Linked DNA regions of Homo sapiens: region 1 is linked to region 2. Evidence: fine-mapped expression QTL. A gene starts in region 2. The other region holds a variant in brackets. All regions are shown on one strand. Distances are from middle to middle. Region 1 overlaps ADAM23 (ADAM metallopeptidase domain 23). Region 2 holds the start of ADAM23 (ADAM metallopeptidase domain 23).

The links. PIP is the estimated chance that this variant, and not a neighbour inherited with it, causes the effect.
Region 1: its variant is fine-mapped to the expression of ADAM23 in whole blood (TOPMed, PIP 0.91).

The regions. Positions count from the first base shown.
Region 1 is chr2:206,522,495-206,527,877 of GRCh38, reverse strand. The region is part of intron 3 of ADAM23 (ADAM metallopeptidase domain 23); the gene reads right to left. Among named protein-coding and RNA genes, the nearest start is that of ADAM23, 82 kb to the right of the region's middle. The variant GA/A (reference allele first, on the strand shown) is at 2,523.
Region 2 is chr2:206,441,239-206,446,621 of GRCh38, reverse strand. It overlaps ADAM23 (ADAM metallopeptidase domain 23), which reads right to left and starts at 3,090. Exons shown (of 26, transcript NM_003812.4): 1 at 2,542-3,090; 2 at 1,098-1,315. The coding sequence starts at 2,755. RefSeq lists a silencer at 2,516-2,645.

The DNA of each region.
Region 1 (5,383 bases), 81 kb before region 2:
GAAATACACCACCATATGCCCCTCCTCACCATGCCAGTCCACTCTTCTACTTCCTGTAAATAGCACACATCCCCATTTACTCCATTCTTTCCTTCTGTCTGACCACAGCCAGCCTCCCTTGAAACTAATTATTCCACTCATCACAGTATCCCTAGCACCTGGCATAATGCCTAATGCATAGTAGGCCCTTAATCAATATCTGCTGAGTGAGCAAACATCTACCAACACCTGCTATAGGGGCTTGGAAACAGGGTGAAAAATGCAACTTTCAAATTGAAACTAAGCAAAATCAGCACAAATGTGCAAGATTGATCACCTCACTCAAAAATATTATTTTGTAATCTCCTTGAGAGTGAATTACATCAACTGAAATGTAACCTAATTAATTATAAAAGTCTTGAAATAATAGTGAAATGTAATTTTTGATGATGGACAAGAAACACTAAAAAGGGAGAAGGGAATAGTTGATTGTGCAGTGGTGTCTCCAGCCCCACCCAGCCAGGAAGGAACCGGTAATCTATGTCTCCACATGCCTGAAGATGAGTTGTCCTTTCCTCCACCTCTGCTTTCTGTAGTCCTAATACAATTTCCTGTTGGAAACAGAATGTTCTGAAATGCTAATACTCATCTATTTAGCAATTGCGGACCCAAATATAAACTGGCATTTTACTTTGTTGATCAGCCAATTGGATGTTTGGTTCTGAAGATGCTAACAACTTGTGGGCAAACTCTGAACATCCTAAATTCTAAAATAAACATCTTTTTTCAATCACTGAAGCTACAGAAAAGCTGTATTCTCTGGCTACTCCCATGCTTCTCATGCAGGTTATCTGTTGAAAGAGGAGTGACCTTTATAAGTAAATGAATAAACGTAGGATGGAAGTTCAAGCCAGTGAAAGAAAGTGGAAGAACTAGAACAAGGAAACTCTTGAACCCACTCACTCTGCCCTTCATGGTGAATCTGCACCACTAAAGTGGTGAAAACTCTAGGAACTCTAGAATGAGACTAAATATGATTTTACTCAAAATATGAAGAACATGTAAGAGCAGGAGAATATAAAACTATTGAAACATGACAAATGAGCCAAGAATCAGGTCAATGAAGGGAACTGTGGCAGAAATAATGCTGTGTGTCCACCAAATGCTATTTCATTTTCCCCTTCCTGGCATCCTGATAAGACCACATTTTGCAGGTTCTGCTGCAGTTAGGTTAGGGCCAAGACAATGGATCATGGCTAATGAGACATGAAGGAAGTGATGTCTGCCCCTCTAGTGTGACCACTAAAATCCCTGCAGGATTATCTAAGCCCTCTCTTCCATGGCAACCCTGGAAGCCACATGCTCCAGATGGCATAACAGAAATATGAATGCAGCCTAGACCCTTTCATCATGATTTGGAGAAGAACTGTCTAAAAGAGCTACTCAACTTGCACTATATCGCAGTGTGGGGAAGAGATAACATTTTACAGTGCTGAAGTCTCAGATTTCATGTTTGTCACTGAAACATTGTCTAAACTGTCCTAATTTCAGGATTTATCACAAATATCTTTTAGAAATCTATGTTCAAAGAATTTCACAATCATCAGCAACTATACAAGCAGAGCTGCTATTATATTTAGGAATTGGAAATTCACAAAAAGAGATTTACCTCAGGAAAGTTTTATATGTATGTGTATAGACGTGTGTCTGTGTGTGTCTGTGTGTGTGTGTGTGTGTGTGTGTGTGTGTGTGTGTGTATTTGTTGGAATCCTTGAATATGAGATTCATGTTTCTAATGTAAGTAGACACATAAACAGCCATGTGGTCAAAACTCCCAAAAGTTTATATCTTCCATTACAAGGAAGTTCCATATGGAGAAGCCAAGGATTCTAATAATTGGAAAAGTTAGGTACCAAGATTCCCTAGTATCTAGGAAAGCTATTAACCAAGAAGAGTAGATCCAGTTTTTTTGGAAAATAACTTGAACCCCTTACTTTAAACAAAGAACCAGCCAGACGCGGTGGCTCATGCCTATAATCTCAGCATTTTGGGAGACTGAGGCAGGCGGATCACAGGGTCAGGAGTTTGAGACCAGCCTGGCCAACATGCTGAAACCCCATCTGTACTAAAAATACAAAAATTAGCCAGGTGTGGTGGTGAGCGTCTGTAATCCCAGCTACTCAGGAGGCTGAGGCAGGAGAATTGCTTGAACCTGTGAGGCAGAGGTTGCAGTGAGCCGAGATCACACCACTGCATTCCAGCCTGAGCGACAGAGCAAGACTCTGTCTCAGAATAAAACAAAACAAACAAACAAACAAACAAAAATATGCTTCTCTTTGGAGTAATTCTGGTCAGAAAAGTTTAAGGGCAGGCTGATCAAAGAAAACAATTGTTCAGAACAAGACGACGTGGCTAACTGGGCCTTGGGCTATGAGGAAGGCTACTAGAAAAGATATACATTGGACCACAAAGGAAATCATTTTTTCTACATGACTTAAAATCATTTACTTCATTGTAAAAAGTGGTTGAACTACCAGTCTCTG[GA/A]AGTCCTTTCTAGTTTTAAAATCTGTATTCTCTGAAATTTTGTATTAAGCACTCAGTTTATTTCTAACTAGGAAATTGAGTGAGTTGCTGAGAACAAGCTTGTCTGAAGGAACCTAGAGGCCCACACAGCATTTCTTCACCAGCAGAACTAGGTAAAAAAAAGTCTAGATGAATAGTAGCAAGCACCAAGGCCTAACAACTGGATGGCCATATAATTTATCATCCAAACTAGGGCATTTGTGGAAATGAAAAGAGGCATATTAATAATTGTGCCAGGACAACAGACATACATAAACCAGGAAGGGCTATCCTGGGAAAACTGGGGCATATGGTCACCCTACCTAAAGGCCAAATTTAAGGTATACACATCGAGTTCTACATGGAAGGTCAGGTTGGTCTACAAGGTGGAAAATACTCAAAAGCTGAGATTCTAGTAAGCAAACAGTCTGTGAGTATGTCCTCTCCTCCAGTTGCTTTTGGGTTCTGTCATCATACTTCACATGGCCACTGATACAGTTTGGCTGTGTCCTCACCCAAATCTCATCTTGAATTGTAGCTCCCATAATTCCCACGTGTTGTGGGAGGGACCCAGTGGGAGATCACTGATTCATGGGAGGCAGTTTCCCTGATACTGTTCTCATGGTAGTGAGTAAGTCTCACGAGATCTGATGTTTTATAAGGGGAAACCCCTTTCACTTGACTCGCATTCTCTCTTGTCTGCCACCATGTAAGACATACCCTTCACCTTCCACCATGATTGTGGGGCCTCCCTAGCCAGGTGGAACTGTGAGTCCATTAAACCTCTTTTTCTTTATAAATTACCCAGTCTTGGGAATGTCTTTATTAGCAGAGTGAAAATGGACTAATACAGCCACTGTTTTAGGAAAGCCTTGAGTAGGTGCCTTAGGCTCTCTCAGTGCATAACATCAGTAGGTGGATCTGGGCAAGAGGAGTCAGCAGTGTAAGTTGTGGAAGTCAGGAAGCTATGAGATCACATTCACTGCAAGACACTGAACTTGTCAGGTGGTGACTAGCCATGCACCTTGCCATACATCTTTGTTCCTAAGTAAACAGTAGCACAAATACCCTAATTCAATTCTCAGTAGTAAAACATGTAAGTTACTTCCATATGTGTTCAAATTGGGACTGGAACAGAAGTTAAACAAACAGTAGAAAAATTAAATGATATCTAGAAAAGGAGTACCACAAATGCCCATATTTCTCATGCAAAGTCAGTCATCTGATTATCTGCTGCTTGAAAGTACTTAAGTTCTCAGTACTGGGAGCCCTAATCACACCTAAATGAGCGCTGACATTCATCCAAGAAGTCTCCTACCACCCCTTCCTTCCAGGTACACATTTCATTCATTTAATGACAACCAATGCTGTCACTGCGGAGACTCTCAACTTCATGGAGCCTCGAGCGTAGTGACATTGTTATGCCCAAGGCTCCATGAAGCCACAGTGAAGCATCGTGCCCGCTCCCTCTTTCCATTAGAAGCTTCTCTGTTTTGTCCTTTTATACACATAAGATATTTTAAATTCACTAGATAATTACTGTAAGTGGTAATGCAGACACAAAATTTAAACTCAATACATTCATATAAACATAAGCTTGTATCCTACAATTATGCTTGCTCTTATATTTCTTTTCTTTTTGTAACAGAAGACTTTAAAAGTATAACAATTTTTCAACCATTACTTTTCTAAAGTTTTAAAAAAAAAATAGACTCATACCACCTAAAATAGTTTTCATACCAAAAGTTGTTTCAGCTAAAAAATATACACTCCTTTGAGTGTAAACAATACAGTAAGAATTTTAAGCTACGTTAAAAGATCGAGGACATGGAGAGGCTGGGATTTAAGCATGTAGCAATGATATATTAAGTGGGTGAAAATAATTATAGGTTGCATAGAGGCTTTGCGTTAAGTCAGACAAAGATGGCATGCCCGGCAAGGGCTGGTAAGTGTGGGCACATTTCATAGGAACAGAACTGCAGGCAGAGAATGTTCCTAGCATGAATAGGTTATAGAGGTTTTTCTTTGGGGGTAACAAGAGAAATTTAATGATCTCCTAAACCATATGAGAGATTGCAGTGGAAATGTAAATGTGTAGGTACTCCTGCATCTCAGGTAATGGTCCCATTAGCCATAATAAAGTTTAGAAAACCCTAGTATAATGAGGACAGGAAACATAGGCAGGCCTGCAAGCTAATTGTAGAGTGGAGAAACAAAGAGTTAGGAGACTTGAGGTGATATAAAAGCTGAGAACCCTCACTCAGCTGGCTTGATCAGCCTAAAAGCCAGTGAGAGTTCCCTTCTGAGGAGGGTGGTATCAGAAGAAAAATCTTTAAATAAAAGATGAAAGATGTTTCGTTTCTTCCCCTTAACTTAAAGCTCGACCATATGAAGTGGATAACACATTTCTAGTTGTGGCTACCAGTGTCTCTCCAAGTTTCCAGTAATTTTGAGATTCCTTTATGACAGAATCATGGTTACTTTCACAATCTAGTTTTACCCCCGTATGTCATAAAACCAAAAAAAAAAAAATTAAACACAAGGAAAACTGGATCCAAATAAAAAAGGCCTATCTTCTGCACATAGTTACACATCACTGAAATGCTATGATGAACAAATTTCAAAGCTAATAATGAATGTAGTTGGTGACTATTGCTAATCCAGCTTCTTTTCTGATACATCCAATATTTATTAACATAACTATAAAGCAAGCATCACACATAGAGAAATTGCAGAGAACAGAAGAGGATCCATGATCAGCTTTGCCTTCTGGTAACCTTGTACAGAAGAAACTACTCTCTTCCAAGTCCAGTTTTTGCCACATTCTAGGAAAAGAACTCTT
Region 2 (5,383 bases):
GAATTTTATATTAGCTGCTTTACAACATAGGAAAATCACCCAAAAGCCTTAAATTTCTAGCTCCCCATTTGTAAAATGGGGATAAATACTGTTACCACTCACCTATATTTTAGAAAACTAATAAAAAACAATGATGTAAACTGCAGATACTTTCTTAAATTCTAGATGTTTAGACAGTTAATTGCTAACTGTTGTTCTCACCTGAACAAGTACAGATCAAAATGAAACATTTAACATACAGACTCTATTTTCTGCTCCCGATAAACAACAGAAGAACCGATAATCCATTGTTTAAATCTGCTCGGGGTTCAAAATAATATTAATTCAAGTAAAGAATAGTAACACAGGGAAAAAGATCCCTTAAACTCTTTGGATATTAAACATTTGTCTTCTACTGATACCTTGGTAAATATCAGTTCCACTTTCTGAACTAACCTGAAAGTAAAGCAACTGCTCATAATCAATGCAGAGTAGGTACTGAAGAATTATGCCAATCAAAATTGGTCTTCATATTATGCAAATAATTTGTGTCTAGTCACCATAATCTTTTTAAATGTCAAATTGTTTACCTATTGAAAATACAACAGAAAATTTTTTTTTCCTCCTACTGATCAATTAAAGAAACAGACTGTTTAAACACTCAATTTCTAAGTGGAAAGACTGATGGAGACACTGCAGCCAAATAGCTTCTTGAAGCAATCTTGCATGTGCAGATTGAAAGCAGTTTTTATATCATGGGAGACAGTTTTATATCAAGGCAGAATACTGCACCCTTACATAAAGCCTCACAGAAACAAGTTAGAATCATAAACACATTCACTTAACTACTGTTCAGTGCCCAATGTACCTGAAAGATACATGGATATCATTTCAGGTATCAGAAAATTCTAGTTCCAGTTTAGTCAGAGAAGAGAAACAACAGTCTTATCCCAGTAGATCCCAAGTTAATTCCTTCCAGTTTCTCCCCTATCATAATATTAATTGCTTTCTTAATAAAATGCTGCAGTAAAATTTGTGAACTCAGATTCTGGCAGAAAATCAAATCAAAGGAAAACTCTTCATGATAGTTACTTTTGCATAGCCAGCCTCCTGCCTACCTTATTATGTTTTTGCTGGTGTCTTGCCTTTGTGTCAAGAACGTGATAAGGGCTTTCCGAGTCTTGGTTGATGTAATATATGAGTCTTGAAGGCAGTGTGATTTCTTTCTGCATTGCATTGCTGTAACTGATATTACTGCTGCTATTCTGTTGCAATGTATTGTCTTCATCTGCCAGGACTCCCAAATTTTTTTCTGCAGTTTCATTCCAATGCGGAGCTGGTGGAGGTAGGGGGGTGGGGGAGCAGAAAATACAAACATACACAAACACACACATATTTACCCCATAAATACATAAGCACTAAAATGCATTTTTCCTTTAATTTCAAACACAAAGTTTTCTATTTATAAGCAGTTAAGAAGTAGAGCTAGAGTAAAGCAAGTTATTTCAACAATAAAATGGCCTGGAGAAGTTAATAAATAGCCAATAAGGCTTATACAACTGTGCACTATTTATTTTGATTTATGTCTTATATATACATTTCTAGTCAGACTCAAATCTATACTTCTAAGTGTTGGGGGGGGGGTAGAATGAACTTGAGGGAAGAAGAGTCATTAAATGAACATGTTCAGGGGTCCTGCCCCCGATCTCCACCCCTTCTCTGAGTCCACAGAAGCACAACTCTACTCTGCCTAGTGGCATCCCATCCAAGAGCTAAGAACGCTCCTAAGATAACTTGAGTACTGAATTTATGGATACCGAATATTAATCGACTCTTTTAACAAAATGGACAATTCCCTTCTCTTTTAACTTTAAGATGAGCAAACATACTTTGCCATGTAGGGATACAGATGCTGGCAGCTTCCCAATTTCTTTTTATTTTCCTGACAAAGCCAGCTTTCTGCTTTCAGTGACTTCCAATCATCAATATATAGAAGATGGTATTATATTAATTGTTCATTATAATGACAAGCACTTTGAGAAATCAGAACCAAAGGTCGTGCATGAAGTATGTCTTCAGCACCTTAATTCTTTGGTCCCCGAAGTGTGCCTCCCCCACCTTAATTCCAACCGCACTGAATGCGCCGGATACGAAATTTGAGGAAACAGCCCATTACCACTATTATCACTACATCCTCCCCGCATTCACATTAAGGTTCCACCACGCAAGTAGCAACTTGCTCCCTCGCTGTATTTCCCATCCACTGGTTGCCCCTCCGCAAGTTGCACAGAGATCGCTGAGGGACCCAGGATCCACTAAACACCTCCCAGTGGAACCAACAAGAATTGGAATGGGTTTTTCGCGAATGCAACAGAAATGGACTTCCAAAAGTGAACTGGGATGAATGGGGGTTTGGGAACGAGAAGGGTGGAAAGACAGGCAGGGAGGGAAGGAAAGGCCGAGCCGGGGACAAGCCCGGAGCACACGGACCCGCGCGCCCTTCGCTTTCCTCTGCAGGGCCCCGCGGGAAAGCCAACGCAAAGGGCACGGGGCCATACCCACCGCTGGGCGCAGCAGCCCCCCAGGCGCGGGGCCGGGACGAGGCGGCGAGCGGAGGCAGCAGGAGAAGGACGAGAAGCAGGCGGCAGGGCGGCGTGCGGGCCGGGGCGCTGGCAGGCACCGAGCCGGCGGGGCCGCGTTGGGGGCCGCAGGAAGCGCCGGCAAGGCTGCAGCCCGCCAGGGGCGGCTGCCGCGAGCTGCTGCCGGGCGGCTTCATGGCTCATAGCTCCCGGGCGCCGCTCCGTGTGGCCGGCGAGAGCGCCGGGCTAGCTGCGGGGCGGCCGCGGGCGGAGCCGGTCACGCCGGCTCGGCGCGCATGGTGCCGCGGCGGGCAGGGGGCTCCGGGCTCGGGGCACGGGGCGCGGGGCTCGGGGCTGGGCGGCGCCCCCTTTCCCGGCTCGCCTAGCCTCGCAGCCACTCCCGGGGCGGGACGCAGAGGAGTCCAGGGGTCCTCGCCGCTCCGCCAACTTGGAGCCTCCCCAGCGGCTACTCCCTCCCCCGGCGGGCGCGGCCGCTTCAGCGACTGCGGGGGCTGCCGCCGGGCCTGAGGATGCTGAGGCGGCGCGCGGGAGCGAGCGGCGCGGGGACGCGCGGGAGCGAGCGGCGCGGGGACGCGCGGAGCGGGCGTGCGCCCCGCCCCCCGAGAGCGCGCCCGAGCGGGGCTTCGGGTGCTGATGCTGTTGCTGGATGCTGTGCTGCTGCTGTTGCCTGGCCCGGAACGCACTGCGCATGCTTTGTTGGGGGGCGGGGAAGGGGGTAAAGCAGCAGAGTGATGCAGCAGCCCAAGCAGCATCGGAGGTGACGGGTGGTACCTCAAAAGATGGGGGCGGTGGAGGGGGAGCCGGCAGTCACGGATAAGCCAGAAGAAAGAGAGTACGGGGGTTTCCAGGCCAGAGACAGGGATGATCGGGAGAAAACAACCAGCCGAAGTCCACCTGCCTTTTCCACCACCCCAGACTTCACATACCCTCTCCTATTCCAACCTCTTCCTGCTCTGGATAAACTAAGGCCACGCATCTCCTTCTTAATCCCTTATATATTTGCTTCCTGCATGTAAATATAAAGGATTGCAGCCGGGGAGGTAAAAATAGCGCGGCTCCTCATTCAGATTGCCAGCAGCGGGTGGGACTGCGGCTGAGAAGAGCGTTTGCGCCGCAGGCTGGCGCGGAGTGGCAGGAATCCCCCGCGCAGGGGCGCTCTGCCCCGGCCTGTGTCCTCCCTGCCGGTGCCTGGGGTCTTTGAGGAAAGCACAAGAAGCCGGACGGTGTTTGCTCAAAAGTTCAGAAAGTATGACTGGGCATATTCGGGAAGGACTTCGACATTCTGGCGGGGAAGCAATACAGAGATTAGAAACCAAGTGTGTGGCAGCTATCTTGGGAAATCCGTTGTTTGTCAACCACGGGGATGGGCACACATTTAGGAGGACACATTTCTATTTTTGAGATCCAGTCCTGACTTCTGCAGAGGAAAGGGGAAGTTTTCTCTCGTTGCTGTAAAAAATGTAAATCCCTGACTTCGGTGGGTTCGCAGCCACTAAATCTGATGGCTTCAGATAAGAGTCTGTGGCATATTTCTGCCCCCAAACTCTCATAATGCAAGCATTCATTTATTCACCCTCCCAATGACAATCTGAGTGATAACAATGTTGTCTTACTCCGACATCCACGGGGTGAGGGCTGGGGTGGAGAATTCCATGATTAAAAGAAAGAATGTGGGTATAAAAGTGCCATGGCCATGACAGAACTCAGTGTTAGCCATCATCTTCTCCACTCACACTTAACAAAGAGAAAAGAAGAAGACATATACGCGCGCGCACACACACATTACAAAACTGTTAGGTAAATACTGAGATAACTTCCTTTCTATGTTGAGCTAGGATATTATTATCACATATTTATTCCTGTAAATTTGTAATTGTTGCTACCTCCCCCATGTGAGGGCAACAACAGTTTTCCCTTCTGCACACCATTGTGTCCCTAGGACCTCACACAGTGTCTGAGGCACAGAGAAATCGCTTGGAAAATATGTACTAAATGAATAAAGAAATGGGTGATACACACAAGCAGAAGTCACACTTGGGGCAGGCTAGTGAACACTCTAGCCCCACCGGAGTGCCCACTGCAGGTCAATGTTCTTAGGGTTGTCTCCCTCAAGTCAAGTATTCTCTGGCTAGGTTTTCCAAATTTATATTTGACACAATATGCATCCTGAAAAAGGGCCTGAGAGAAAGCAAGCCAGAAAGGAGATGTACAAGCAATGAGAAGGGAGAGGGAAATGAAAGGTGCAAAGCACCCAGATGCAAGTTACTTGAAAGGCATCTCTTGCAATTCAGTGACAACCTCTTAAAGTCTGTTCTGATAAATAAACCTATCAGCCAACCTGGACTGACCAAACCCACCCACCAGTTACAACACATCATTTCATGCACTTGGGGTATGGAATGAGGATTCAATATAGTTTCTTTTTTTCTTTTTTTTTTTTTTTTTTTGAGATGGTGTCTTGCTGTGTCACCCAGGCTGGAATGCAGTAGTGCGATCTCAGCTCACTGCAACCTCTGCCTCCCAGGTTCAAGCGATTCTCCTGCCTCAGCCTCCCAAGTAGCTGGGATTAGCTGGGATTACAGGCACGTGCCACTACACCCGGCTAATTTTTGTAGTTTTAGTAGAGACGGGGTTTCACCATGTTGGCCAGGCTGTTCTCAAACTCCTGACCTCAGGTGATCCACCCACCTCAGCTTCCCAAAGTGCTGGGATTACAGGCGTGATCCACCGCACCTGGCCTCAATATAGTTTCTAATAAGGGGTTGGGGTATTTACAAAGAGGGATGTTGTCTTATGTACTATAG